4 linked regions of the Homo sapiens genome follow. The protein of the gene in region 4 interacts with the protein of the main gene of each other region in a biochemical or structural test. Each region holds a gene or a part of one and is shown on either strand. Other genes may lie near its edges.

Region 1 (7,348 bases), on a different chromosome or scaffold from region 4:
TTGTTCAGTGAAAATGGTATTTATTTGGCTCACTGGGGCAAACAGATTCATCTTATTGGGAGTCAAGAGGCGACCAGGCGGGGGCGGTGGCTCATACCTGTAATCCTAACACTTTCGGGAGTGTTAGGTGGGCGGATGACTTGAGGTCAGGAATTTGAGACCAGCTTGGCCAACATGGTGAAACCCCATCTCTACTAAAAATACAAAGATTAGCTGGGCGTGGTGGCACGATTCTGTAGTCCCAGCTACTCTGGAGGCTGAGGCATGAGAATTGCTTGAACCCGGGAGGCGGAGGCTGCAGTGAGCAGAGATCATGTCAATGCACTCCACCCCAGGAGACGGGCAAGACCCTGTATCAAAAATAAATACATAAATAATAAATAAAATTATAAACAGAAAAAACAGGTGACCAGTTCAGGGGCTCAGCTGCCCCAGACCTTGCCTGCTGGTATCTGAGGCCAACCTGCACTCCTCCTTAGCGCACCGCTAAGATGTGCTCCAGTGTGGAGAATATGAGCATCATACTGCAGTGAAAAAGAGATCTGGAGACAGGCAGACAGGAGTATGAGGCCAGAGGAGAGGTCTGAGTACTGAGACCTGGGCCCAGGGGAGCCTCCTGCTGCTCACCTGGTTCAGCAATAAACCATTGTTGAAGTCTTCGGTTTGAGTTTTGAGTTCTGGTACGTTCCAGCCCCAAAGTCATGGGAGCCGCCCAGGAAGTGTGTTCACATGGTCATATGTTTTTGTAAAACTTAGAAATTCTGGACATTGTAGCCGGAGCTGGTCAAGCTTGTTATCTCTGCACTGCAACTTCCTCTTCTTGTCATTTCCCCTCCTGTCAGGAGGCCTCACTGTAGCCACAGTATTGTGAATGAATAATTGTGGGGTTGTTTTTTTTTTTTGAGTTAGAGCTTTCCTCTCGTTGCCCAGGCTGGAGTGCAGTGGCTTGATCTCAGCTCACTGCAACCTCCGTCTCCAGGGTTCAAGCGATTCTCCTGCCTCAGCCTCCCGAGTAGCTGGGATTACAGGTGACCGCTACCACACCCAGCTAATTTTTTGTATTTTTAGTAAAGACGGGGTTTCACCACGTTGGCCAGGCTGGTCTCAAATTCCTGACCTCAGGTGATCCACCTTCCTCAGCCTCCCAAAGTGCTGGGATTACAGGCATGAGCCACTGCGCCCGGCCTGTGTATTTTATTTCTTAAAAAGAGCCTCCAGATCACTTGAGTCCAGGAGTTCCAAGGAAGCAGTGAGCTATGATCGCACCTGGGTGACAGAATGAGACCCTGTCTCAAAAAACAAAAACATAAACAACCAAGACAGCCTCCAAAATTGTATAAGCTTCAAGGCCTGGCAAAACCTGAACTTGCTCCTGTCTCCAACGTATTTGGCAAAGGGGTGGGAGAGGGGTGGGCAGGTTGTCCCCATCTTCCCATTTATGGTCCTTAGAGCAGCCAATGCTGCCTGCTCTTTGCTGGGGGGATTTTCCTTTTTTTCTTTTTCTTTTCTTTGAGACAGAATCTTCCTTTGTTGCCCAGGCTGGAGTGCACTGGGACGATCTTGGCTCACTGAAACCTTCGCCTCTCAGGTTCAAACAATTCTCATGTCTCAGCCTCCCTATTAGCTGGGATTACAGGAACCACGCCACCATGCACAACTAATTTTTGTATTTTTGCGTTTTTTTTTTTTTTTTTGGGATGGAGTTTTGCTCTTGTTGCCCAAGCTGGAGTGCAATGGCGTGATCTCGGCTCACTGCAACCTCCACCTCCCAGGTTCAAGGGATTCTCCTGCCGCAGCCTCCCGAGTAGTTGGGATTACAGGCGCGCGGATTACAGGCGCTTACAGGCGCACAACACCACACCCGGCTAGTTTTTGGTATTTTTTAGTAGAAACGGGGTTTCTCCATGTTAGCCAGCTGGTCTTGAACTCCTGACCTCAGGTAATCCGCCGACCTTGGCCTCCCAAAGTGCTGGGATTACAGGTGTGAGCCACCGCGCCCGGCCTAATTTTTGTATTTTTATAGAGATGGGATTTTGCCATGTAGTCCAGGCTGGTCTCAAACTCCTGGCCTCAAGTGATCCACCCACCTTGGCCTCCCAAAGTGCTGGGATTACAGGCACGGCACCAGGCCTGGATTTTGCTTTTCTTTTTCTTTTTTCTGAGATGGAGTCTTGCTCTGTCGCCTAGGCTGGAATGCAGTGGCATGATCTTGGCTCACTGTAACATCTGCCTCCCAGGTTCAAGCGATTCTCCTGCCTCAGCCTCCCGAGTAGCTGGGATTACAGGTGCCCGCCACCATGCCCGGCTAATTTTTGTATTTTTAGTAGAGATGGAGTTTCACCATGTTGGCCAGGCTGGTCTTGAACTCCTGACCTCAGGTGATCCACCTGCCTTGGCCTCCCAAAGTGCTGGAATTTGGCTCACGCCTTTGGCGTGAGCCACAAACCCCGGCCTGCTTTTCTTTTTTAAATTTACATATTATTTATTTATTTTTATTTTATTTTATTTTGAGATGGAGTCTCACTCTGTCACCCAGGCTGGAGTGCAGTGGCGCAATCTCAGATCACTGCAAGCTCTGCCTCCCGGGTTCACGCCATTCTCCTGCCTCAGCCTCCCAAGTAGCTGGGACTACAGCCGCCCGCCACCACGTCCGGCTAATTTTTTTTTTTTTTTTGTATTTTTAATAAGGGGTTTCACTCTGTTAGCCAGGATGGTCTCGATCTCCTGACCTCGTGATCCGCCCGCCTCGGCCTCCCAGAGTGCTGGGATTACAGGCGTGAGCCACGCGCCCGGCCTAAATTTATATTTTAAACGCACATAGGAAAAAAAAATTAAACAGTACCAAAGAGTACAATGCATACTGACATACCGAGTCACCAATCCACCCCAAATTCCTAGACCCATGTCTCAAAAATGCCACAGACATTTTCTGATGGATCTTTGCAAAAATTTTCTATCTAGATCCTATTTTTTATACAAATACAACTATATGTATACAGCATTCTGTGCTTAATAACCCTTGATGATCTTCCCATATCAGCACATAGTCTGACTTAATTCTTTTTAAAGACTGCAGAGATTGCAGGCGCCAAAATACATCTAACCATTGGGGCAGATTTCATTATGACTATCCTTAACCCACTGTACTTGTCCCGCAAGGTCCAACCTGGTATTGCACAGGACCTCACAGAACGCTGCTGTTTCCTGATCTTTTCTAGTGAGGCAGCTTTGTTTCTTCACATAGGAGACCTCCCTGGAAAGCGAAGTCAAGCAGGTGGATCTAGAGGTTGGCCACCACAGTCAGGAAAGCAGCTGTCTACTGAAAAGCAAACTCTAATTCCTTAACATTAACGAGTACCGGAACTACCACGTGGGAAGTGCAGCCCCCTCTCTCCGCCTCACGGATTCAGCTCGGAGGTGCAGGGGTTTGGTGGGGGGCGGTTAGGGAATGACAGCTGCCCCGTGGAGGACGCCCAGGGCTGGGTCACGAGCTGACAGGAGTCAGCCTTATTCTGTAAATCCTAGTTATCAGGATGCCGGTTTCGCGCCGTGCCCAGTCCCACTCAGCCTTCAGTCTTCCGGCCGGGACCCCGCTGGGCGCTAAGGGGGGAGCGGCGCCACCGCGAGGCCGGAGAGGGGGCTGCGAGGGGCGCCCGGCCGGCCTGCGAACGTGGTGGGAGCCAGGCGGGGCACACGGCCTCCCCTTCCCATGAGGGACTCTCCCCGCCCCCCGGGCTCAGCGCTGGGAGTGGTGAGATGGATGGCGGGGTGATCCGACGCCGCCAGCCCACCGCGTCCCCAAGAGCCGGGGCCTCCGGCTCAGCTAAACGCCCCAGAGTCACGCATGCGCCCCATAAACGTCTGCTGAGTGAACGAAAGCTCCCCATCCACAAGGGGACAGCTCGGCGCTCCCACGCCATGTCCAGGTCGCATTCGACCAGCAGGACTTCCCTTAACGCGCTGCCGGAGTCCCCAAGATCGCGCCCCTGCCAGGAGCGGAACTGTTTATTTCCGTCCGGCTGAAGAGGCGGGGTGGGGATGGCACAAGCCGATTGGTTACGCAAAATGTGGAACCAATTCAGGCCTATGATCCAGGAGACTACAAGTTCCAGAATGCATCCTTCCTCCAGCATAGGGACAGGCCGAGGCTGCGGGGGCGTTGCCTGCTGGGAATTGTAGTCTTCATCTTGTTTGTTGCGCAGGAGGAACTGGAAGGAGGGAGTAAACTATTACCACGTGACGTTCGGGTCAGGTGTTTGGGCCAGCCTCCGCACTCGAGCTTTGATTGGCTGACTCTAATAAGAAGACGCCACTAGGGGCGGGGCGAAGAGGGGCGCAAGCTCATTGCGTTTTGAGTCTCGGGACCCCTGTTGGAGAGACTATGGCGCTCAACAAGAATCACTCGGAGGGCGGCGGAGTGATCGTCAATAACACCGAGAGGTGAAAACACTGCGGAAGGATCCTGGAGGACCAAAGTTCGGGTGTCGAGGAAGTGGGCGGTGGGTGGTGGGTGGTGGGGAATAAGCCCCTGAAGAGGGAGCACTGATGGAGTGAGGTTGGTGGGGAACGGCTGGGGGCGGGGTTGGAGGAAGGTGGGTGGGCCGTGGGGGAGAGCCCGGGAGGTTGTGATCAGCTGGGAGGCGGGGGTGGGACGTCTGCATGGGGACCTGGTATGGGGCCCCCGGTGGGGCCTAGGGGTGATTCTTGAACCCCTTCCCAGACTTGTGATTTCAGTAGCTGGGAGGAGCCCCAAACAAAAATAATTGTCACTTATTGGATGTCTACAACGTTACTACGTGTCAGGCTCTGCGCCTTTTCTACCTTATTTAATAAATTCTGTGCAGTATAATCTACTACTGTCCACATTTCACAGGTAGGGAAAGTGGAGGGCAGAAAGGTTAAGTAACTTGCCCGAGATCGCAACTGTGTAAGTAACAGAGGTGGTAATTCCAGGAAAGGAGTCTTGACTCCAAAGTTAATAGGATTAACCACCAGCATACAGGCTTCCAGTATGTTCCAGAACTGTTCAGGTTCCCGGTAAAAAACTGAGGTCCCAGAGGTGAAATTAAACAGATGACGTTTGTCAGGTGTCTAACAGTTCCTGGCACTGTGTGGGTCCGTAGTCATTCCCTTGCCTCTCTCTTGAATGCCTGTTGGTTTGGGTCACCTCGGAAGGCAGAGCTCTCCTAATTCAAGGTTCTTTCCACTCCATCCTCCCCACCCCTTGCTCATTGCATCCTGTCTCTCCTCCAGTCTCTGCCAAGAGAAGCCTTAAATGGCCTCTGTCTCCTTTTGTTCCTTGGGTATTGAAAATCAGACCAGCCAGCCCTGGGTTGAACTATGCCGACCCTGAATTGCCTCTTGAAGGCAGAAGGAGCTTAGGAGGCACCTGAGTCCCCAAAGGAGACATCGTGGAGTCAGAGCCCTGTACCCAGCTAAGGCCAGCATCCAGCTGCCCTGTGACTTGGGAATGTTTGATGAGTCAGAGGAAAATGCCTAGAGTGACCCAGCATGCTCACTTTCCCTCTATCTTACCCGCTCAGAGTTTCATGGGCCCAGCCTGTTGCTGGTAATTCCTTCTTTTCTCTGAGCAGTACTTCTCTTCTCTTTTTTTTTTTTTTTTTTTTTTTTTTTTAGATGGAGGCTTGCTCTGTCGCCCAGGCTGGAGTGCAGTGGCACGATCTCAGCTCACTGCAACCTCCGCCTCCTGGGTTCAAGCGATTATCCTGCCTCAGCCTCCCCAGTAGTTGGCATTACAGGCACCCGCCACTACACCCAGCTAATTTTTTGTATTTTTAGTAGACATAGGGTTTCACCATGTTGGGCAGGCTGGTCTCGAACTCCTGACCTCGTGATCCACCCTCCTCGGCCTCCCAAAGTATTGGGATTACAGGAGTGAGCCACCGCGCCCAGCCATTTTCCTTTGCTTATACCAGTTGTTTCCCACTTACCCTTCCCCAGTCAGAGAAAGTTGTGATATATGGGGGGAGGCAGAAGACAAACAGAACCGTGTGAACCTTTTTATCATGTAATCAGAGACACCTCACACTGTTTTGTTGCATCTCTGTGTGTGAGTCAGTTCCCAGGCCTGGCCAGCTTTTCGTGCCATTTGGCAACATCTCTGGGGACTGTTTTTCTTTCTGTCTCTGTGGAACTTTCTGAGACAAGAATGTATCTATCCTGCTCGGCCTTCTACCTGGCTTAGGGCTCAGTCCTGCTAAGTAAGGTGTGCCTTCAGCCTGCTGTTTTAGAAAGTGCTTCAGCCTGCTGTCTGAAAAAGTTGTATCTATAACAATTGAAGTGTTAAGTCCAGTGTCCAAAATTTGATAATTAGGCTGGGCATGGTGGCTCACGCCTGTAATCCCAGCACTTTGGGAGGCTGAGGTGGGTGGATCACTTGAGGTCAGGAGTTTGAAACCCGCCTGACCAACATGGTAAAACCTCGTCTCTACTAAACACAAAAAATTAGCCAGGCGTGGTGGCGCATGCCTGTAATCCCAGCTACTTGGAAGGCTGAGACAGGAGAATCGCTTGAACGCAGGAGGTGGAGGTTGCAGTGAGCTGAGATCACGCTATGTTGCACTGCAGCCTGGGCAACAAGAGTGAAACTCCGTCTCAAAAAAATAAAAAATTATAATTAAAATAGTGAACGTTACTCTTCAAGTCGTGAACTCCTTTGACAATGATGAAAGCTGTGGACTCTCCTCCCAGAAAAATGCACATATGACATACGTGATCATCTCAAGGGCTTCATGGACTTTCCTGCAAACCCCGCTTAAGAACCCAGGTTTAAAAGAACCCCGAAGGACGTCCTATTGTGATCTGTACAGTCATCTCTTAGACATGTTTATATTTTAGGCTTGAAAAACAAACCAGCAAAAACAGAACATCTATCACAAGGACTTAAAAGAAAATAGAAGAGTTGGCCGGGCGCAGTGGCTCACGCCTGTAATCCCTGCACTTTGGGAGGCCGAGGCAGGTGGATCACGAAGTCAGGAGATCGAGACCATCCTGGCTAACACGGTGAAACCCCGTCTCTACTAAAAATACAAAAAATTAGCCAGTCGTGGTGGCGGGCGCCTGTAGTCCCAGCTACTTGGGAGACTGAGGCAGGAGAATGGCATGAACCCAGGAGGCGGAGCTTGCAGTGAGCCGAGATCACGCCACTGCACGCCAGCCTGGGTGACAGAGTGAGACTCCGTCTCAAAAAAAAAAAAAAAAAATAAAGAAAATAGAAGAGTTAAGCCAGATTATCTAACTTGCTTGAGGGATGATGGCCTCTTCAGAGCCCTGTAGCTCTGCTACCATGTTGATCATTTGGGGGCTTTATAAGCGGGGTTTGGGAAAT
Region 2 (7,022 bases), on a different chromosome or scaffold from region 4:
CATGAACGTCTTCCTCCCTGACATCACTCACCTGAGAACTGGCCTCTACAAATCCCAGAGACCGTGCGTAACACACATCAAGACAGAACCTGTTGCCATTTTCAGCCACCAGAGTGAAACGACTGCCCCTCCTCCGGCCCCGACCCAGGCCCTCCCTGAGTTCACCAGTATATTCAGCTCACACCAGACCGCAGCTCCAGAGGTGAACAATATTTTCATCAAACAAGAACTTCCTACACCAGATCTTCATCTTTCTGTCCCTACCCAGCAGGGCCACCTGTACCAGCTACTGAATACACCGGATCTAGATATGCCCAGTTCTACAAATCAGACAGCAGCAATGGACACTCTTAATGTTTCTATGTCAGCTGCCATGGCAGGCCTTAACACACACACCTCTGCTGTTCCGCAGACTGCAGTGAAACAATTCCAGGGCATGCCCCCTTGCACATACACAATGCCAAGTCAGTTTCTTCCACAACAGGCCACTTACTTTCCCCCGTCACCACCAAGCTCAGAGCCTGGAAGTCCAGATAGACAAGCAGAGATGCTCCAGAATTTAACCCCACCTCCATCCTATGCTGCTACAATTGCTTCTAAACTGGCAATTCACAATCCAAATTTACCCACCACCCTGCCAGTTAACTCACAAAACATCCAACCTGTCAGATACAATAGAAGGAGTAACCCCGATTTGGAGAAACGACGCATCCACTACTGCGATTACCCTGGTATGTGCTCTTACCTGGTTGAAGCATCAATAGATGTAGTGTGTGTGTGTGTGTGTCTGTGTGCGCGCGCGTGTGCGTGTGTGCACGCGCGTGCCCTTTTCAACCTCATGGCTTTAAATAGGAAAGTTGTACTTGACAGTAAAAAAAAAAAAAATTACCTTTTTTTTTTTCTCTATCCTATCTCTGTGCTTTAACTTTGGTATGTAAACCAGTTAGTTGTCTGTTGCTTATGTTATGCATCAAAAACTTGGCTAGAATATTCTGGAAAAAGTTCCCTTGGATTTTTTTTTCTTTAATATTAAAACAGATTTGAATTTCTAATACATATTATTTCGAGTTAGGCCAGAGTTACTTTAAAATGGCAATTGAATAAATTGCAGTTTTTAATTCTAAATTAAGTGCCCCAGAAAGAGATTAAAGTAGGGTGGGGGAAAATAAGGTTTGGTGGTGAAGTGGAGGTTGCAGGCAGCTAGCTTGATGTTAGGTACAAGACTGTCTACAAGACAGATTTAAGAATGGTTTTGATGGCACGTGAGCATATGCTCAGTTTTGAATGACATACATGGCCCAAAGTATAAGTTGAAGACAATACATGGAATATATTTACAAGTTACTGGGAAAGCTAGTTTATGATTAATACATGGCAAAATTTATTGACTCTGATACATGATATGGCATGACGTGCTAAATGAAAAAAGAAGAAATGTGGGAGTACAGAAAATTACAGTCATCTTGGATAATGGCTTAGTACTGTCAGCTCTAGAGCCATTAAAATTTTTAAAAAAACATATAGCAGCTCTTAATACGGAAGTACAGCACCTACTGGAATATAAACACAAATTTTCCATTTGTAGTTTGGCTTGATTATCTGTATTCTTTCCTGTTAAAGTGATACATAAAACAAATCACTTCATGCCTTTAATAAGGTAATGGGGGAGGGCTCTTTAAAACTTTTAAAACTGAAGCTTCAAATAATCTCATCTAGCATGAGAGATTTCTTCTTTAAAGCCAGATTTTAAACACTGAATCATCAAATGTAAAGATTTCAAAAGGATCTCCAAAATGACATGCTGTTCTCCTTTATTTTAGGTTGCACAAAAGTTTATACCAAGTCTTCTCATTTAAAAGCTCACCTGAGGACTCACACTGGTATGTAATTTTCTTGTTAATTCTGTGAGTTGTGTAAATAGTGTAAGTGGTATTCATCCTTTTAAAAGCTAACACGTGTTTGATCTCTTCTCCTGTCAACTTTGTTTTTTTTTTTTTTTTTAAATAGCCTACCTTTTCAGCACAGGCTTGGTTCAGAATTCAGTTCCATGAGAAATCTGGTTCCAGGAAGGCCGGTGATGTTCCCTCACTAAGGCCTTCTTGCCCTGTCACCGCTCAGAGTTGATTACCCAAAAATGTAAACAGCGATGTTTACTAATGGATTTTAAAACTTATACTGGCAGTGTTTTGAAGGAAAAAAAACAAAACAAAACTCATTTTCTTCCATAGCAAATAATTTTGCTCTGAGAAAGCCATTTTAAACTCTTAAAAACTTTCCCATTTGGAGTGTACTGCATAATTGGTGAAAACGTTAGTTTCACCTCTAGGTTAAAATATCTGTGTTTAGTATGTTTTCTGTGCTTGATGAAAGGTAGTGCTGAAATTGCAGTGTTAAAATCAGGTGGTCAGAAATGGGTTACAAGCCCCAGCCTAAACTTGGTATGTGTGAGAGACTTGATCTTTATTCTAGCTTACATTCATTCTTGTTTACATATGCTTTTAAGTTTAGCTCCTCTACTTTTGTATTTGCTTTGTTCAATCTATAGCAGTCACTTTTTTTGAGATGGAGTCTTGCTCTGTTGCCAGGCTGTAGTGCAGTGGTGTGATCTCAGTTCACTGCAACCTCTGCCTCCCAGGTTCAAGCGATTCTCCTGCTTCAGCCTCCCGAGTAGCTGGGATTACAGGCCCCCACCACCATGCCCAGTTGATTTTTGTATCTCTAGTAGAGATGGGGTTTCACCATGTTGGCCAGGCTGGTCTCCAACTCCTGACATCTTTATCCACCTGCCTCGGCCTCCCAAAGTGCTGGGATTACAGGCGTGAGCCACCGCGCCCGACCAGCACTTTTAAGAGCTTTTAAACTTTAAAATTATATCAGAAGCCATTTTAAGATGAAACCAGGTGGCATACTTTAAAGGCCCCCCAAATACTCCAAATATTGTCAAATATATAGATGGTTACTATTTGCGATTTTCTTAAAAGAGCAGCCCTAAAGAAAAGAACTTATATAAAGTGATTGTGTTTTTTTCCCTCAATAAATACAGCCTTACCTAAAGTTCAGAGAATAAGTTTGCTAATAAAAGCAATGACCTAGCAAAATGTATTATTCCATCATTGCTATGGAAACCAAAGTATTCAACAGTTCCTTTGAATGGGTTGTTGGATTAGTGTGAGGACTTGAATCTCCCGAGGCTAGATGTTACTATGGAAATTGAGTTTTGATAAATGAAGTAGTTATCTCTAACTGCTGCATTAAAAAGTAAAAGCCTTTGAACAAAGGTCAGTGCTGAGGTAGAGCCCTAAGAGGAATATGGTTGCAGACATTTTGTATGCATGTTAGGAAGCATTGCTTGATATCCCAGTGATAAACACTACTTACTAAAATCCGATGACAATGTTGTAGATTCCAGGGCTTTTTGAGAAACTGCTTTTAAGGAGAAGGCATCTTATGTATTTATCTATGAAATGAGCGGGCTGTTTTGGCCTGAGGTTTTTGCATGGAGACAAACTGATTACATAAGAGGAAGGATCCTTCATAGGCAGCCCAAGGTAGAAATTTTTATAGTTAAACACAAATGAATTAAGCATGTTATAAAAACTCCAACTTAAAGTTTTCAAAATACAAATGACAAGTGCCAGGAAAATATTCCATGTAGAAATACCAAAATGTCCTTTTACAGAATATAAATGGAAATATAAAGACATTTGAACTATTGTTTTTTTCACTTTTGGAAGTCCTTGAGAGATAGGAGGGAACACATTTTCCTGGGTTTAAAGTCTCCTAATAAAAGAGCACAATTGCATATAACGATGTAATCAACTACTTATTGCAGGGATGTAGTCAAACCCATATCTGAATAGCCTTTCACCCCGTCAGGGTTTAGTGCCCTGAATGCTTATACCTGCGATTCAGGAACTTGACCTGCCGGCAAATACATTTAATCGTGGGTTGTCTTAACAATGCTTGTACTAATAAAAACAGACTGAAAAGAAGACCGAGACCTGGTTTGGGTCCCTTGCATCAGCTTTTTCACCTGACCATAAACATTGTGGCCTTCAACATCTAATGAATGAGAACATGTAATCCAGTTTAATAAAGTTTTGTTTGATAGTCTTTCAAATGCCTTGGGGAGGGTTTGTAGCAGACTTGTTCATCTGGCTAAACCTGTTCTTGGGTAATCATAGAGCATTGAGGTTGTTTTCTCCTCATTTCTCATTTCTAGACAATGCCTTTTAAAATTACCTGTTCTCTCATTGCATCCTCCCCACCCTGCCCGCCTGTTGTTTTTAAATGAATGTATCTGAAGCCAGCAAAGGTGTTTTTTTTTTTTCTTTCCCTTTAAGGCCCAGGTAGAACAGTTAGGACAGTTTTTCTAAATTACTTCTCTTATGTAATAGCTTTTTTTGGTTTTCTTTCTGTCCTCCTCCTCCCTCTCGGACCGTTGATCAGAGGACTTTAAAAACCACACAACAGTTGATGACATAAAATACTCTTTAAATGATTGTCGTTTTACAGGCAGAATGTGAAGCACCCTAGCATTTCTTTGGAAAATAATTGTAATTGCTTTAAAATGTCAAGTTACCTTATGTTTTAAAAATAATTTAGGCAATGAAAACAGCCTACATCTGAGTTTAATTACTTCTTCTGGATTTTTAGATTGGAAGTGCTTCTTTAACTTGGGTTGCAAATTGAACCTAAGCAAATAATAGTCTTAACAAAATAGAACTTTTTAAGTAATCTGAGATGACAGAGTAGATGATATATCAGTTTCTTAAACCAGAAGTATAGCATTCAAGTCTTCTAAGTTCATATACTTTGATTTCTTTATCAGGAAATCGCATATAAATAATACAAAGTTCTGTCTTCTTTGTGTGATTAGACAATACTGGAAACATTTGCTTCTATTCTAGGGAATAATTATATTTTATTTATATCTGTACATACATAGTATAGCATAAGGCCTGTAGAAGCACCCCTTATAGATGTGGATGTTCGCATGTATTATTTGTAGTATGTGTGTGTATACATTTATCATGCCTTTGGTGAGAAATAATTATGGCTGCTTCTAGGTAACAATGTCAATGAGTGGTGTATTTCCAATTCAAAATATTTGTACTTTTAACAGCATTTAAATGAACATTGTACTGAAATTTGTATGCCTCATGATGTCTACAAGGGGCGGAACACATTGCTATTACTCTAAAGTTGCTCCCAAGTATACTGTTTTGTCTTTATAAATCAACATGACTGATAAACTGTCTATTGCAACCAGTATTATATGCTCACATACCTTACTTTTTTCTTTAATATAATGAACATTTAAAATAATGTCTAAGTTTGCAAAGGTTTGAGGCAAGTTGAAATCAGTAGGAAAATATATTGACTGTATCTTCAAACAAAAATTTGTAGAAATTTAAAAAGTTCTTACCAGAGAAAAAGTTCTGAAAAAGTAAACCATGAACTCAACACAGATGTTTGAAGTCCTAGCGGTTCCCTTCATGTGCGTGGATATACACTTAACCTTAGAGAATATGGAAAAGCTGTTGGGAAATCAGGGTACGGTAACGTTTCTAGATTTTTTCTTTCTTTTTTTTCCCCCGTTTCAGCTATCTGGAACAGGGCAAGAAATTAGCATTTGTACAAAGAAAGTCTTTGAACAACACACACTTGGCTCAAGTATTCCTCAGACCCAGACTCCATGCATTGGACTCTGTGTGTACTAAGTGATCCCAGAGTGGCTTACTGGAGATTGACAATGGAAAAGGACAATTTGAAACACGCCCGTAGGAGAAAATGGAAACATTGTACAAATAACATAGGAACACAAAATTCACTCTTCTTTTTTTTTTTTTTTTGAGATGAAGTCTCGCTTTCGTCCCCAGGCTGGAGTGCAATGGTGCGATCTCGGCTCACTGCAACCTCCACCTCCCAGGTTCAAGCGATTCTCCTGCCTCAGCCTCTCAAGTAGCTGGGATTACAGGCGCCTGCCACCACGCCCGGCTAATTTTTGTATTTTTAGTGGAGACGGGGTTTCACCATGTTGGCCAGGCTGGTCTCGAACTCCTGACCTCAGATGATCCACCCGCCCCAGCCTCCCAAAGTGCTGGGATTACAGGCGTGAGCCACCACGCCAGACTCACAAAATGGACTCTTAAAGCACTGTGTTCAAGATTCCCTGTTTAGGAAAGATTTCCACATTAAGTCCTGGAAAGATTTTTAGTGGAAGCCTAGTTTGTAAAGGGGTTACATTCCCATTTTCTGCCTTACTGTCTTTTGCAGAAGACTTTATTGCCTACTGACATGTGTAGTAAGATGTTATTAGTTATACTTCGTATAATCTGTACTTGAGATTTGCTGCTGAATATATTGACTTTCAGTTTGGGTACTAAAAGATCCTTAGATATGAATTTCTTTTCTAGGGCCTGGCACAGTGGCCCACACCTGTAATTCTGGCACTTGGGAGGCCGAAGCAGGTGGATCACCTGAGTTTAGGGGTTCGAGACCAGCCTGGCCAACAAGGCAAAACCCCATCTCCACTAAAAATACAAAAATTAGTCAGGCGTGGTGGCACATGCCTGTAGTCCCAGTTACTCAGGAGGCTGAGGCAAGAGACTCGTTTGAACCCACGAGGCGGAGGTTGCAGTGAGCTGAGATCGTGCCACTGCACTCCAGCCTGGGCAACAGAGTGAGACTCCATCTCAAAAAAAAAAAAAAAAAAAAAAATTCCTTTCTAGGTCTTTGCTCCAAAGTCATTTTTCATGGAATATATTAAACATAGCTTTTGGTTTTAAAATCTCGATAATATTTGGCTGGGCGCGGTGGCGGCTCACGCCTGTAATCCCAGCTCTTTGGGAGGCGGAGGCAGGTGGATCACCTGAGTTCAGGGGTTCGAGACCAGCCTGGCCAACATAGTGAAACCCTGTCTCTACTAAAAATACAAAAATTAGCTGGGCATGGTGGCACATGCCTATAGTCCCAGCTACTTGGGAGCCTGATGCAGGAGAATTGCTTGAACCTGGGAG
Region 3 (7,869 bases), on a different chromosome or scaffold from region 4:
CTCCCCACTTCTCAGGGCTGGGAGACCATACCCAGGCCTATCTACTGTCTTTCCCACTGAGGTCTGTGCTCTGAGCAGTCTAGGGGCTTCCAGGGACAGGCAGGTGGGTCTGAGCCCTGAGCCACGTGGAAAGGACGGGCAGGTGGCCTCCACCTGAGATCTGCACTGCACCAGCCACCCCCCAGGCCCAGCTCTAGAATGACAATGCCAGGTCTGCCCCATGGCCAGTCCTGCAGCTCTCGAGGCCTACACCAGCTGGGGCCTTCTCAGCTCACCTGCTCAGGAGGCCCAGTGCCTGCCCGGGGACTTGCCCGGGCAACTCACTCCCCCAGCCTCTGTGCAGAGGGGAACAGCAGGGCCTGCCTCTCGGATGCTGACCCTATCCCATGCCTCATGGGCAGCAAGGGGGGCAGTTTCTGCATGGGGACCACTGGAGACACTGAGTAGACAGGGCCCCGGGCAGAGTCCTGGCCACAGCTGGGGATCACTGTCCTGGCAACTGGGTCCAGGGAGGGTACCAGGCGCCTGGCGGGAGGGCTGGCCACAGCAGCAGGCTTGCATGGACAGCCAGTTGACTTTGCACCAAGAAAAGCCCCTGCCGGGTCTGCGCCCACATTCCTTCAGCTTCTTGCAGTCACAGGTCAGTCAGCAAACCTTCCGGAGCCTCTGGTGTGGGTCGGAATGGTAGGGATGGGCTCTGCCTCACACACAGAGAGTGGGCCAGGAAGGCTTCATGGTCAGGGGTGCTCAGACGGCCGAGAGCCTCTGGGATGGCTGAGGAGTCTCAGGGACACGTGGGAAAGAGACCCCCTCGGCAAAGGACGAGGCCTGCAACAGCAGAGCAGGGAAGTCCCCGGCACAGACCGAGGGGTGCAGGGCATGGGGAGCCCCTGTGGGGGCCAGGGTGAGATGCCCAGCACCTGCAGGCACCCCTGGGCCTGGGTGACGGTGGCTGTCTGCACACAGCAGGGGACCAGGAAGCAGATTCCAGACCCCAGCCTCCTCAGAACAAGGGCCGTTCTCTGTTCTCAGAACAAGGGCCGGCCCGAATCCATCCTAGAGCAAGGACTGCCAGGTGCGTCACAGCGGACCGCCCAGCACAGGGGACCAGGTAGCAAGCGAGACACTGAAACCACATCTGGAAAAATGCCCAACCTCGAGGAAATGTCCCAAGTTCTTTATAAGTGGAGAAAGGCAGATGGGGCTTTAAAAATCACTTGGTGCAGCAGAACCTGAGGCCCGGCGGCCAGCGAAGGCCCCACGGTGTGCCCGATGGTCAGGGGCTGCAGTGGATGGGGACGTGGAGGCTGCGTAGGAGGCACCCTGGAGGCTGGACACCCTGGAGGCCTCTGGGCTTGAGCTTTGCACACAGGTCAGATGTTTTTTACAGTCAGCTTCAAACGGTGAAGGGGCCCTACTCCTAGGTGGTCTGGAATGTTCCCACAGCTGCCTGGTGGTGGCCCCCACCCAGGACCCAGCAGGGTACCCGCCACAGGACGTCCCCGCACTCGGCCCCGCCTCAGAGCCCCCACGCCCCCTGCTTTCAGTCCCAGGGGCCACTCCAACCTGGCCACGCCAAGCCATGGTCCCTGCACCGAGTCCAGCCTGCTGCCTTGGGCGGTGAACAGACTGTGAGTGTGGGGGAGGGGAGGAGTGTCCCCCAACACCTCCTGGGGGTCCCACTTACCCTACTGGATGACAGCAGCTGAGGACCAAGGCCTGGCTGGGCCTTGAGCTGGCATCCTCATGATGTCTCTGAGCCTCAGCTTCCCTCCTGAAAAATGGGGAGCATCATGCTAGCCGCCCCCCAGCGCCACAGGGTCATGGGGGCTGCAAGAGCCAAGATGAACTCCTGCAGGAAGGAAAGGGGCCTTGGGCTCAGCACCGGGAGTCTCAGCCCTGGCTGCTCCTTAGAATCTACTGCAGAGCTTTCAACACAGGCACCCCTCAAATACACCCACCCACCAGGTCACTGCTGACCCCCCTCTACTCGGACCACATCTCTCTGGGGCCGGAGCCGGCCCTGGGGTGTTTTAAGGTCACCTGGGTCTCCATGAGCTCCGTCGCTGTCCCCGTGTGCTCACCAGCTGTGCTTACCTCTCCACGCACTTAGGGGTGTGCTCTGCTCTCGAAAGTCCCCACAGCAGCCGCAAAGGAGGGGCCTGGTTGGGCCAATGTCAGCAGGGCCTCCTTAGCTCACCCTGACAATGGTACCCCCATTTCTCTGGCAGCAAACAAGGGGGAACTGACCCAGTTCAGTCTCCTGGGGTGCAACGCCTAAGCCACTCTCCCCTCAGCACCCGCAGGGGGCCTCTGAAGAAGAGAGGGCTGCAGGACACGTCTGCCTCTCCCCTCCGCAAACCAGGCTCTGCGGCCCCATCTCATCTGCTTCCAGGCTCCCTGGCCAGCTTGGGAACAGCCCCATTCATTCGGGGTACCCCTGGAACCTTGCCCCAGCTCCCACCACAAGTTGGGACAGGAAGCCCAAAGTGACTCCTACAGGGGAGGCCTGGCGGCACTGCACCCCAATTCAGCTTCTTGGGGTCCTAGCCCCCACCCTCCCATTGGGTTTCTGGAGTGGCTGGGGTGCCCTGCACACAACCTGCTCTTGTTTCTCTTTAGTCCCCGCAATGCCCGCTGCCCAGGGCTGCCTCCCGACCTGTAGGAGAAGGTCTCCAGGCCCTAGGCCAGCAGATGTACTCCTGTTGTGTCAGGACCCCAGCCTCCCCCGACTGCCCACACCCGCTGGCCTGACAAAGAGGAATGGGGAGCCCGGACAACTTGTGAATGAAAAAGCTTCTCACCTACTTGCCAGGGGCCTACCCCCTTCCCAGGCTGGTGGGGAGGTGAGGCCCATCCCCCTCATCCCTGGCTTCTCCTCGGCCACAGCTGTCCATGGGGTACTCCCGGCTGTGGGTGGTGCAGGGGTTGGGAGCTGGGAGGCCGAGGCCTGTGCTTCCCTCGGGCCTGTGCACCCGGCCGCACCATCCGTAACGCGGGCTTATGAGCGTGCCTGGCTGCTGGGTGGCCTGACGGGTGGACACCGAATGGGCCACTCTCTTCTCTGCTGGTAGAGGATGGAGGCCCAAGGTGGAGGTGCTGTCGGCACAGCTGGGGCAGACCAGGGGAGACCCCCTATCCAGGGATCCCCTCCTCCCCTCCCAGGCCGCCCCTCCGCAAAATGCTGAGGACTGGCCCCCGGGCCTGGGCTACATGGGCCATTACTTCTGGCCTGGGGCCCACAGGCAGAGATGCCAATGGAGGCACACAGGCAGTCGCACCCGCACCCGATCAGCACCAGGCCTGAGGCCTTCGGGCCTCCCTATGCCCCACCCCACCCCCACCCACCAGGAGCAGAGGACGTCGTGGTGGGCAGAGTCCTCAGCCTGGGAGCTGCACAGCCCCGCGCTTCCTTCTATGGAAAATCTGCTCCTCCAGGCTGCCTGGCTGCTGTTACATAAACATCTCTGCTGCCTCCAGGCGCCTCCTCTCCTGGGGCGCTGACCCCAAGATGTTACCCCAGGCCTGCAGAAGTGAGGCCAGATTCTGGGAGGACGCAGGCGAGGGAGGCTCCCAGCAGCAGCTACAGGGGCGGGACAGGCCGCCTGCACTGGCTGTTTCCAGAGTGCTCAGCATTTGGCAAGAGGTGTGCCAGGAAAGGCTTGCTGGGGTCAGGTGTGAGATTTGTCCTGCTTTCTGTGCCTGCCTCTGCCACCATGCTCTGGGGTTTCTGCAGCCCTCCCCCCAGGCCCCCACAGTCCTAGGTCCCTCCCAGCCTTTCGGTCTCCCCGCAGGGCAGGCTTAGCCCTCCTACTCCAGGAGGGGCGCCGGGACACGCGCCTTCTGCCATCGCACTCACCACCCTGTGTTGGGGTGGGGAGGGGGCGCTGTCTGTCCCTGGCACGAGGCCGTGAACTTTGCGCAGGGACTATGGCAGGCATTTTGGACTCCTGGCGCTTAACCAGGCTTGGCACAGGGTGCCCGTGCCTGGCATCGTGGTGGAGAAATAAATCAGCCGGAAGGAGCACGTGGGAAGGGCTGCGCCGGCGCCAGCGGCAGATCCGCCCGACCCGTTTGTGCTTTCTGGGGCCACCTTAGGCAGGCGGCGCCCGGGCAGGAGGAGGACGGTGACCGAGGAGCGTGTCGACGCGGGTCCCCCTTGGGGGAGCGGGGCACAATCCGTCCGCGAGGCACTGGTCCCGGCTGCTCCCTCGGGGCGCCCGGAGTCCCCTGCCCAGAGGCCGCGGCGCCCCCATCCCTCGCGGTCAAGTGCTCGGGCAATCACGGCCAGGGATGTCTGGCGGCGATCGATCCTCTGGACGCCTAAAGCCGCGGCCACGGGGCCCTCGGGAGGGAGTGAAGCCGCTGGGCTAGGGGCGCACACACGGCTAGGCCACTCTCCCAGAGCCCTGCCCCGGGCCCGGGGTCCCCCAACGTGGCCTCAGCTGCTCCCCGCCCGGCCCAGCGCACGGTGCACACGGCTGTCCGCGGCCTCGCCCTCCCCATTCCGCCCCGGGCTCCTCCGCTTATTCACATGCAAATTTCAGTCGCCAGTTGTCGCCGAGCGCGGCAACCGCCAGAGCCGGATCCTTCCGCAGCCCCGGCTCAAACTTTTGGCCTCTGAAAACTTTCAAACGAGAAGTAGTCCCAGGCGCCCGCTCCCGACCCACGCCGCGCCGCCGGGTCCCTCCTCCCCGGAGAGGCTGGGCTCGGGACGCGCGGCTCAGCTCGGGGAGGCGCAAAGGCGGACGGGGCGTGCGGGAGGAGGTGGCCGCGGAGGGGGCGGGGGGACCGGCGGGGGTGGGGCCGGGCGGGGCGGGGCCGGCGGGGGCGGAGCGCACCTCGACTCTGAGCCTCACTAGTGCCTCGGCCGCGGGAGGGAGCGCAAGGGCGCGGGGCGCGGGGCGCGGGCGCGGGCGCGAGCGCAGCGAAGGAACGAGCCGGGCGCGGAGCCGGGCCCGGGGGCCTGCGAGAGCACAGCGCCGCCAGCCAGCCGGGGAAGAGAGGGCGGGACCGTCCGCCGCCGCCCCGGGACCGTACGCCGCGCGTGTGCGTCCCAGCCCCGCCGGCCAGCGCAGGAGGCCGCCGCCCGGGCGCAGAGGGCAGCCGGTGGGGAGGCATGCCGCCGCTCCTGGCGCCCCTGCTCTGCCTGGCGCTGCTGCCCGCGCTCGCCGCACGAGGTAGGCGCCCACCCACCCGCGAGCCCCCACTTTCCGCGCCCTTTGGAAACTTTGGCGGCGCCCGGCGCGCGCGCCCCACGGCTGGGAGCGGGCGGCGGGGAGGCCAGCATGGAGAGGGAAAAGCGGGCGGCCCGGGGCGTGGGGTTCTGGAGTCCCGGGATCAGGGAGGACCGACCTTCCCCCTCGATCCCCCCGTGGAGGCGGACTCGCGCCGCCCGTGCCTGGAGCCGAGTTAGGAGGCCGGTGTGGGGTGCTGGGGCCCCGGAGGCCCTACTCCGGGCCCGCCCTTCACCCGCCGCGCGTGGGGCTTGCCGCCGGTCGGCCGGGCGGGCGGGCTGCCTACTATTTTTCGATTTGAATAGAGTCGGTTTTGGTTTCCTGTTGCTTCTCCGGGCCATTTATCTTCTTTCTTCTTCGCCTCTGGCCCACGCCGGGGCGGATGTTGGGGCGCGGAGTGTGGGCTCTGCGGCGCCGCGTTCGCCTTCACTGACCCGCGCGGCCGGGCTGGGTCCCCGGGCTCCCGGTCGCCCCGCCCGCCGGTGCCCCCCAGCCCGGCTCTCAGTTTGGGGGAGGGGTTGCGTAAGAAGCCGCCGCGCCCGGGGGGACTGAACTTTCCTTTTGCTTTGCGGAGTTGAAGTTTGGAAAGCTTGGGGGCGGAGAGCGGGACGCGGGTGGGGGGCTCTTACATTTCTCCCCGCCGCACAGCGAGCGGGGTCTCTGGGGAATCGAGTGATTAATCCACTCTTTCTCCGAGAGTTGGAGGCGAGAATTATCTGTCCTCTTCCAGAAAGTGCGGCTCTGTGTCACACCCCCCTCCCCCGTTTCTCAGCCCCGGTAAGATGGGGAGGGAGGGGCTTGAGTAATTGATCCCTTCTCGAGATGGGGTCGAATTCCTTCCGAATGGGGGACCTTCATCCCCCTCCTGTGGGTGTATGGGGGCTGCCCTGGAGATGCGCGCCCGCGGAGGCAGGTATTGGGTGTCGGCGGAGGCGGGGCCGCGTCCCCAGGGTGCTGTCCCGGTGCCCCTGGAGGCGGCCCCGACTCCACAATGGGCCGCTCTGATTCTGAGGCGGAGGCCGGCGCTTTGTTGGCGGGCGGGGTAGCGGGCGAGCAGCTGTCGCATTTTCCCACGGGCGGGAGCTGAGTGTGGCCACCCCCCCTCCCCCCGTCCAGCTCTGCCCCCTTGCAGAACGGGTTTGAACAGAGGCAATCTCGGCGGCTGGATGGGGGGCCCTGCCCTGCCAGACTCCTCAGTGAGCCTCCAGGGTGGGGGGCAACGCTTTGGAGAGTAGCCCACTTTGTCTCTGCTTTTCCCCCACTGCGTCCAGGCGGCACATCAGGCCACCCCACCCTGCTTCAAGCAGGACGTGTTCCCTGCTGCTCCCCTTCCCCCCATTTCTGACTACAGAACTCTGGGCAGAATGTTGACGCCCCTTTGGTTTCATGGAGGGGCTTCCTGCGGACCCGTGCCCCAGCAACCCATGATACTGAGCAGAGTGCGTCCGGGGTAGGGGGCGGACGATGCCCCTTGGCTGGGTGCAGGTCCCCGCCCCCAGGGTAACCAGGGCCTTCGGTGGTGGTGGTGCGGGTGAGACTGACCTCTCTTCTCCTGCCCCTGCCTAGGCCCGCGATGCTCCCAGCCCGGTGAGACCTGCCTGAATGGCGGGAAGTGTGAAGCGGCCAATGGCACGGAGGCCTGCGTGTGAGTACCACCCCTGCGGGACCTGTTGCTTTGTCGAGGGCAGAGCCCCTGCCTTCTGCAGCCGCGCAGGGGACAGAACACTAGGCCATTGTCTTCTGGAGATGGCCCAGAGTCTGGGCACGGTCACGTGCTGACTTTTATTGGACAAAGTCTGGCAATTACTTAATCACCAGCAATTATGCTGCGTGTGGAGCTGGTCTGGCTGCTGAGGGCTTGGGCACTCCTCCGTGGGCCACCTCAGGCTCCGGGGTCACTAAGTGGGAGTCCCAGTACCCCAATTCTTCTTTAAGTCCCCAAGAAACAGTTGATCTGCCAGGGGAAGCTCTGGACCATTTACTGAGAGGCCCAGCCCCCACCACCCTGCCAACTTGGGGCGCCTCCTCTGGGCGGGTGATGCCTCCTGGGCACAGGTGATGCCTCCTCTCGGGGGTGATGCCTCCTAGGTGGGTGGTGATGCCTCTTGGGCTGGTAGTGATGCCTCCTCTGGCACAGGTGATGCCACCTCCTGGGCGGGTGATGCCTCCTCTGGGTGCGTGATGCCTCCTGGGCTGGCGGCAATGCCTCCTCTGGGCACAGGTGATGCCACCTCCTGGGCGGGTGATGCCTCCTCTGGGTGCGTGATGCCTCCTCTGGGCACGGGTGATGCCACCTCCTGGGTGGGTGATGCCTCCTCTGGGTGGTGATACCTCCTCTAGGTGGGTGATGCCTCCTCTGGGTGGTGATACCTCCTCTAGGCGGGTGATGCCTCCTCTAGGCACAGGTGATACTTCCTGGGCAGGTGATGCCACCTCCGGGTGGGTGATGCCTCTTCAAAGGAAATTGACTCTTCAAAATCGGACCCGCCTTTGGGCTCTCTGTTTGCCCCAGCTCCCTCTTCCCGGCCTCAGGCTGGGGCTGGGGAAGAGAAGGTGGAACTCATGTTTTGGCGTGGGGTGTGGGGTAATTATTGAGTCTGGTTTCTGTCCTGGCATCTGCAAACTCTGACCT
Region 4 (7,022 bases):
CTTCAGAATATATTTCTAGGTTATAAGAATGGAGGCATACATAAAAATGTGTTTTTATGTATGTATGAAAATATAAAAGATACTAATTAAAAGTTTATTTCTATAAATGATACTGGAGTTGAGTGTTAGTTTTATTAGTGGGCATTTGTTTTAAAGAAAATTGTGATAACTGTTCTATTTTTAAACAAATAATATTGCCTCATTTAAACATCATAATTTCCTATATGTTCTTCTCCCATTTCATCTTCCCTCTATAGATTAGTATGGAAGGACTGGGAGAGTAAAGTATTGATGCCAGTGTATTATTTTTAAATCATTTTCGAAAAACTAATAATTAATTTGATAGTTGATAGTCTCCTCTTCGTGACATTTTATGAACTTAGTGTCTTGGCTGGGAGCGGTGGCTTACACCTGTAATCCCAGCACTGTGGGAGGCTGAGGCGGGTGGATCGCTTGAGCCTAGGAGTTCGAGACCAGCCTCAGAAACATGGCAAAACCTTGTCTCTACAAAAAATACAAATATTAGCCGGGTGTGGTGGCGCATATCTGTAGTCCTAGCTACTCGGTTGTTGCTGAGGTGGGAGGATTGCTTGAGCCCGGGAAGCAGAGGCTGCTGTGAGCTGAGATCACGCCACTGCACCCCAGTCTGGGTAATAGAGCAGGAAGATCCTGTCTCAAAAAACAAAGAACTTTGTGTCTTGAAATTGCTATATTTCCTTATAATGTGGACCTATCTATCTGTCTATATAATAATATAGATATATTTTTGAGACAGCTTCTCGCTCTGTTGTGCAGGCTGGAGTGCAGTAGTAGTGTGATCACAGTTCACTGTAGCCTCCACCTCCTGGGCTCAAGTGATCCTCCCACTTCAGCCTTCCAAGTAGCTGGGACTTTAGGCATGTGCCAACACATCTGGCTAATTAAAAAAAAATTTTTTTTTATAGAGACAGGATCTTCCAGGCTGGTCTTGAACTCCTGGGCTTAAGTAATCCTCCCACCTTGCCCTCCCAAGGTGCTGAGATTACAGGCATGAGCCACTGCGCCCAACCCCTTATCATATTTTTAGAAAATTATTATAAAATGTGATTCTGCCACATGCTTGGCTTATTTCTACTTTCATATTAAAACACTGTTATTTTATTTCTCTCCCTAATCTTTTCTCCAATCAGGCTTCAATGTTAGCTGCAGAAAATGACCCTTATGGACCTTTGCCACCAGGCTGGGGTAAGCTGTTTTTGCTAATGATCTATAAGGGAGATATATATCTCTCCATATATATATATATATATATATATATATATATATGTTCCTTATTTTATATATATATATCTCCCTTATATATGTCCCTTAACATATATATATCCCTTATAATATATAATATATTTAATATGGATTATATATTCTATATATTATATATTCTGTAGAATGTTATATATTCTGTATACTATATAGAATATATAATCCATATTAAATATATTATATATTATAAGGGATATATATGTATATTATATATGTATATATTATAAGGGATATATATATGTATATTATAAGGGATATATATATGTATTATATATATAATATACAGAATATATAGAATAGATTATATATTAAAGAATTATATATTATAGAATATATATTATATTCTACATAATTATCTATAATATAATATATATTATATTCTCTATAATATAATATATGTTATATTCTCTATAATATATATTATATTCTATATAATATATTCTATAATATATAAGGGATACATATATCCCTGATATGTTTTTATATATATAATATATATTATATATAATTATATGTGTTCCTTATTTTATATATAGATCCTAAATAGTTATTAAATATTATACTCACTTTATATTTCAGAAAAAAGAGTGGATTCAACAGACAGGGTTTACTTTGTGAATCATAACACAAAAACAACCCAGTGGGAAGATCCAAGAACTCAAGGGTATGTATATACAGCAGCCTTAAGTCGTCTTGCATATATCAGTAGGTAGAACCAACCAACCTTGAATGAGATATTTTTAGTACCTAGAAAAGGTTCATCTTGTGATTTTAACTTTATCTTTTAGCTTACAGAATGAAGAACCCCTGCCAGAAGGCTGGGAAATTAGATATACTCGTGAAGGTGTAAGGTACTTTGTTGATCATAACACAAGAACAACAACATTCAAAGATCCTCGCAATGGGAAGTCATCTGTGTGAGTGAAAACCTGAAGTTCTCCTTTAAATATTGCTTAGTGAGCACATGAGATTTAGTCTCTAATTTATCCTCAAGTTTAGCAAAACATTTTACTTTTTGGTTCAAGAAAACCTACACAAGTGAAACCTTAGTATAGCTGTCTTTGCTCTCATTTGACAATGGATTTGCAGCATGTAAACTATTTATGTAGTGATTACTGTGTGCCGAGGATTGTTCTAAGTACTTCATAGGTATTAACTCATTTTATCTTCCAATAACCCCTTGAGGTAGATACTATTATTTTTCCCTTTACCAAGTGAGGAGAGGTATAGGGAGCATAACTAACTGTGCAAAGTTATAAGGCAAGTAATGGAGCTGGTTTCTAACGATGACAGTCAGTCTCTGTCTAGACTCTGTGCTCTTAACTGCCACATCACACTGCTGCAATGAGATGGTCAGTGAAATGATTTTTCCAGATTTAAAGATACCTTAATTAAGCGGTTGACAGATCTCTCCTTCATTCTTACTCTAAGGTGTCATGTCTTTGCATAACTAAGAAAATAGAAGCAATCCTAAAAGGTCTTTTGCAAAGTTGTACCACCATATCTGTCCGTCTCCTACCATCTCTCCTCCCTCCTGTTCCTATAGATGAACTGTCATTGTTATTATCAAAGTCTCGTCCCTCTGCTGGTACATTCGATTCCTACCCCCACTTTTCTACTTAATTGCTCCAACAGTTATCACCTTTGTGTTGCATTATCAGGTTTTATTTCTCTACAAAATTATTCTTATCAGCTGTTATTTCTCCTAGATATAAAAAAAAAGCAAAAAAAAAAAGAAATTACAACTCTTCCCTTTACCAATGTGTTCAATCGCAGTTCATTTTTTTGTTTTTTTTTTGAGACGGACTTTCGCTCCTGTTGCCCAGGCTGGAGTGCAATGATGCGATGTCAGCTCACTGCAACCTCCACCTCCTGGGTTCAAGCGATTCTCCTGCCTCAGCCCCCTGAGTAGCTGGGATTACAGGCACCCGCCACCACACCCAGCTAATTTTTGTATTTTCAGTAGAGATGGGGTTTCGCCATGTTGGCCAGGCTGGTCTCGGACTCCTGACCTCAGGCGATCCACCTGCTTTGGCCTCCCAAAGTGCTGGGATTACAGGCGTGAGCCATCACACCCAGCCCACAGTTCATTTTTATTGCTCCCCTTTACAGGAAAGCTACTTGCATGGTTGTCTCTGTATTGCTGTTCATAGTTTCTCCTTTAAACCAACTCCAAGGAAGTTCCCCTGACACTGAATTTGCAAGGGCACCAATGATCTTCACATTGTTAATCCAGGCGTTGGTTTGCAGTCCTGCCTGATTTGACTTACCAGGAACATTTGACACAATACATTTCTCTCTCCTGGCAAAAGTAGTGCTGTGAGCCATACTTTCTTGATTTCCCTCTGCGTTTCTGTTCTTCTATCTTTATTTTGTCGAGTCCTCCTTTTTTTCCTAAGCCTCTTTTTTTTTTTTTTTTTTTGTTAACTACATTCATTCTCTTGATGCATCTTACTCAGTATTATGCTTTTAAAACATGTGCCTGCTAATGACTCACAAATTTAGCTCAGACTTCTCACTTGAAATTTTGCTTTCTATATTCAGCTGCTTATTGACATCTCCACTTGTAACTCCTTCTTGGTAGGTCCTGTAAAACCTGCTCTCTGGCCAGGCATGGTGGCACACACCTATAATCCCAGCACTCTGGGAGGTTGAGGCGGGTAGATCACTTGAGCCCAGGAGTTTGAGACCAGCCTGGGCAACATAGCAAGAGCTAGTCTCTAAAAAAAAAAAAATTATAACAACAACAACAAAAACCCAGCTCTACCTGTGATATTCCCTGTCACAGTTGATAACTCCACTCTAGCAGGTGCTTGGGTCAAAAATTTTGAAATCACCTTGTTATGGTGGCTCACGCCTATAATCCCAGCAGTTTGGGAGGCCGAGGCGGGCAGATCACCTGAGGTCAGGAGTTCGAGACCAGCCTGGCCAACATGGTAAAATTAGCTGGGCGTGATGGCGTGTGCCTGTAATCCCAGCTACTCAGGAGGCTGAGGCAGGAGAATCGCTTGAACCCAGGAGGCAGAGGTTGCAGTGAGCCGAGATTGCACCATTGCACTCCAGCCTAGGCAACAAGAGCGAAACTCCATCTTAGGAAAAAAAAAAAATGTAGAATCATCCACAACTCCTCTATCTCTCCTACCTTACAAACAGTCCATCAAGAATTCTAGTTACCTCAACTTCAAAACATATCTAGAATCCAGCTATGCCTCACCACCCCCATTGCCACCATTTTGGTCCAAGCTACCATTATCTGTTGCCTGGCTTGGTAGCAGAGTCCTCTCTCTGCTTTCTTCCCACACCTTGTACAATGTTGTTACTCTCCATACAGCACAGAGACTGAATTTCCAAAACAAAATTTAATTAAAAGTCATTTATTTGCACAAAACCCTTCAGTGGTTTCCATCTCAATAAGAGTAAAAAGCACACTTTACAACAGCCTAAATGGCCTTACAGGATCTGACCCCTCTTATCTCTTCAACCTCCTCTTGGTTTTCGCTCCTCCTCATTCACCGTGTTCTAGCTTCATTGGACGCTAGCTGTGCCTTCAACACCTTCAGCTTCCACCTTGGGTCTTAGCCTTTATTCCGTCTGCCTGGTATGCTCTTTTCCCGAAACTCCATATGGCTTTTGCCCTCTCCTTCATGTTTTTGCTCAAATGTCACTTTGTCTGTGAGCTCTACTCCTTTTACCCTTTTGAAAATCACAAAATGCTTCTCATATCACTCCTTATACTTTGTCCTTTTAACAATGCCTTTTTTATTGTTTTATTGTTCTAGGTCAGGAGTGATAAGACATTTGTACTTTACTTATTTATTATATTTTTTTGTCTTATCTCCTTCACTAGTATATAAGCTCCACAAAACAGGCATTTTTACCTATTAATAAGTAATGCTGTCACTGTCTAGAAGAAAGCCAGGTACCAGCTATGCATTCAGTAAATGCTTTTTGAGTAAGTGAATTCACTTGAACCTGACAACACAAGAGAACATTTTTCATCTGTTCCAAAGTGTTCCTTAACATTATGAAAGTTCTTTGTGCCTGTCAGGCCCTCAATCAATAGGCAAGAGATCCAGGCTCTGTCACTGTGAGTCAAACCATATTGTAAAACCTGTATTCCTAGGTGCCGTGCCACCAACTCTGCCTTTTCTCTCACTGACCACGTGAACCGTGTGATCTGGATGACAATGTTGTTTCTAGGAATTTGATTTTGCTTTGCTTATTATCTCCAGGAATATTTGTTTGGGTTTTAGGTTAGGCTTAGGATGTGGTAGAATTTCCTTCCACGTCTCTTCTGTCTGGAGCCTCTGTCCTCCTTAGATTTAAGGATTATCGAAGATTTTCTTTGAAATAGTCTGTAGTAGACTTTGATATTTCATTTAACTCACTAACAAAAGATCCAGCCATAAATACAATGTCCTTCTTTGTGTATATGTGTGTCCTGTTGCTGTAATAGTCCCCATTACTTGAGCTTCTTTTGGCCCACCATGTATGTATACCCTTCTCTCCCAGCAGAAATCTTCCTGTGGTATTTTGTTGGACTTTAGTACACTCTGATTTTATACTGAATACTAAATATTCAACTTTATTATGAGTTAATTTGGTTTATTTTTGTTTTTCTTTAGAACTAAAGGTGGTCCACAAATTGCTTATGAACGCGGCTTTAGGTGGAAGCTTGCTCACTTCCGTTATTTGTGCCAGGTACTATAGTGGTAAATAAATCTTATACTCAATAATTTAGTCTTCTCTTTATACAATACATATACTATAACTCAGATGATATTATGATATTATTTTTGTTTTTAGTCTAATGCACTACCTAGTCATGTAAAGATCAATGTGTCCCGGCAGACATTGTTTGAAGATTCCTTCCAACAGGTAAGGAGGATTTTAGCAGAATAAAACACCATTTGTCTCATTGTATTCTGTGCATCTAAAGAAAGTCAGGGTTTTAGAGATTTTTAAACCACCCAGAACACAGCTATAATAATAATGACTGCCACCACCACTTGTTGAGTGCCTTTGTTTTGTTTTGTTTTGTTCTGTTTTCTTAAATAGAGATGGAATTTCGCCATGTTGCCCAGGTTGGTCTCAACCTCTGGGCTCGAACGATCTACCCACCTCGGCCTCGTAAAATGCTGGGATTACAGGCTTGAGCCACTGCATCTGGCCTGAGTGCCCATTTTAATCATAGTTACACTAAACCTTCCCATATACTGAGTGATTATCATTTGCAAAACACCGGCATCTTACATTTCTCATTTTATTTCATTCGTCCTCACAGCATCCCTTTGAGATAGCACTTATTGTATCTCCATGTTATAGGTAAAGGTACTGAGACTGAGAGACATATCATGAATTTAGATGTGTATTTACTAAAATAAAGCTTAAACAGCTTTTGGAACAAGTTGATTCTTGTTTTGACACAATACTTGGCTAAGAATTTATTACCTCAAAGTTTTGATAATGCTATCAAATTAAAATTAAATTGGTAGATACTGTATTCCATTTGAGAATTCCTTTAATAACTTTATTTTCACCTTTATGTTTCTGTTTAAATGTGATCTCAGAGAGACCTTCTCTGAGCCTACTATTTTAAGATGGCAGTCCTTCTCTTCTCCCTCACAGTCACATTCCAGCCATTTATGGTGCTTTATTCTTTTTCATAACCACCCAACATAGTGTATTTTGTCTTCCTTACTAGAATGTGAGCTCCATGAGAG

What was found.
Region 1: of the proteins of WWP1 (region 4) and WBP2, one has a biochemical effect on the other in vitro, tested with the Homo sapiens proteins (2 studies listed by BioGRID, with this or other methods).
Region 2: of the proteins of WWP1 (region 4) and KLF5, one has a biochemical effect on the other in vitro, tested with the Homo sapiens proteins (4 studies listed by BioGRID, with this or other methods).
Region 3: the proteins of WWP1 (region 4) and NOTCH1 form a complex in vitro, tested with the Homo sapiens proteins (one study listed by BioGRID).

Annotation. Positions count from the first base shown.
Region 1 is NC_000017.11:75,852,331-75,859,678, reverse strand, and holds the start of WBP2 (WW domain-binding protein 2), read left to right. Parts: upstream 1-4,343; 5' UTR 4,344-4,381; coding exon 4,382-4,440; intron 4,441-4,534; exon of another isoform or gene 4,535-4,555; intron 4,556-7,348. UniProt on the Homo sapiens protein: Acts as a transcriptional coactivator of estrogen and progesterone receptors (ESR1 and PGR) upon hormone activation. In presence of estrogen, binds to ESR1-responsive promoters. Synergizes with YAP1 to enhance PGR activity.
Region 2 is NC_000013.11:73,062,004-73,069,025, forward strand, and holds part of KLF5 (Krueppel-like factor 5), read left to right. Parts: coding exon 1-731; intron 732-1,820; coding exon 1,821-1,880; intron 1,881-7,022. UniProt on the Homo sapiens protein: Transcription factor that binds to GC box promoter elements. Activates the transcription of these genes.
Region 3 is NC_000009.12:136,543,037-136,550,905, reverse strand, and holds the start of NOTCH1 (neurogenic locus notch homolog protein 1 preproprotein), read left to right. Parts: upstream 1-4,857; 5' UTR 4,858-5,119; coding exon 5,120-5,180; intron 5,181-6,803; coding exon 6,804-6,882; intron 6,883-7,869. UniProt on the Homo sapiens protein: Functions as a receptor for membrane-bound ligands Jagged-1 (JAG1), Jagged-2 (JAG2) and Delta-1 (DLL1) to regulate cell-fate determination.
Region 4 is NC_000008.11:86,429,528-86,436,549, forward strand, and holds part of WWP1 (NEDD4-like E3 ubiquitin-protein ligase WWP1), read left to right. Parts: intron 1-1,169; coding exon 1,170-1,224; intron 1,225-1,878; coding exon 1,879-1,963; intron 1,964-2,087; coding exon 2,088-2,216; intron 2,217-5,924; coding exon 5,925-6,000; coding exon of another isoform or gene 6,001-6,009; exon of another isoform or gene 6,010-6,011; intron 6,012-6,105; coding exon 6,106-6,177; intron 6,178-7,022. UniProt on the Homo sapiens protein: E3 ubiquitin-protein ligase which accepts ubiquitin from an E2 ubiquitin-conjugating enzyme in the form of a thioester and then directly transfers the ubiquitin to targeted substrates.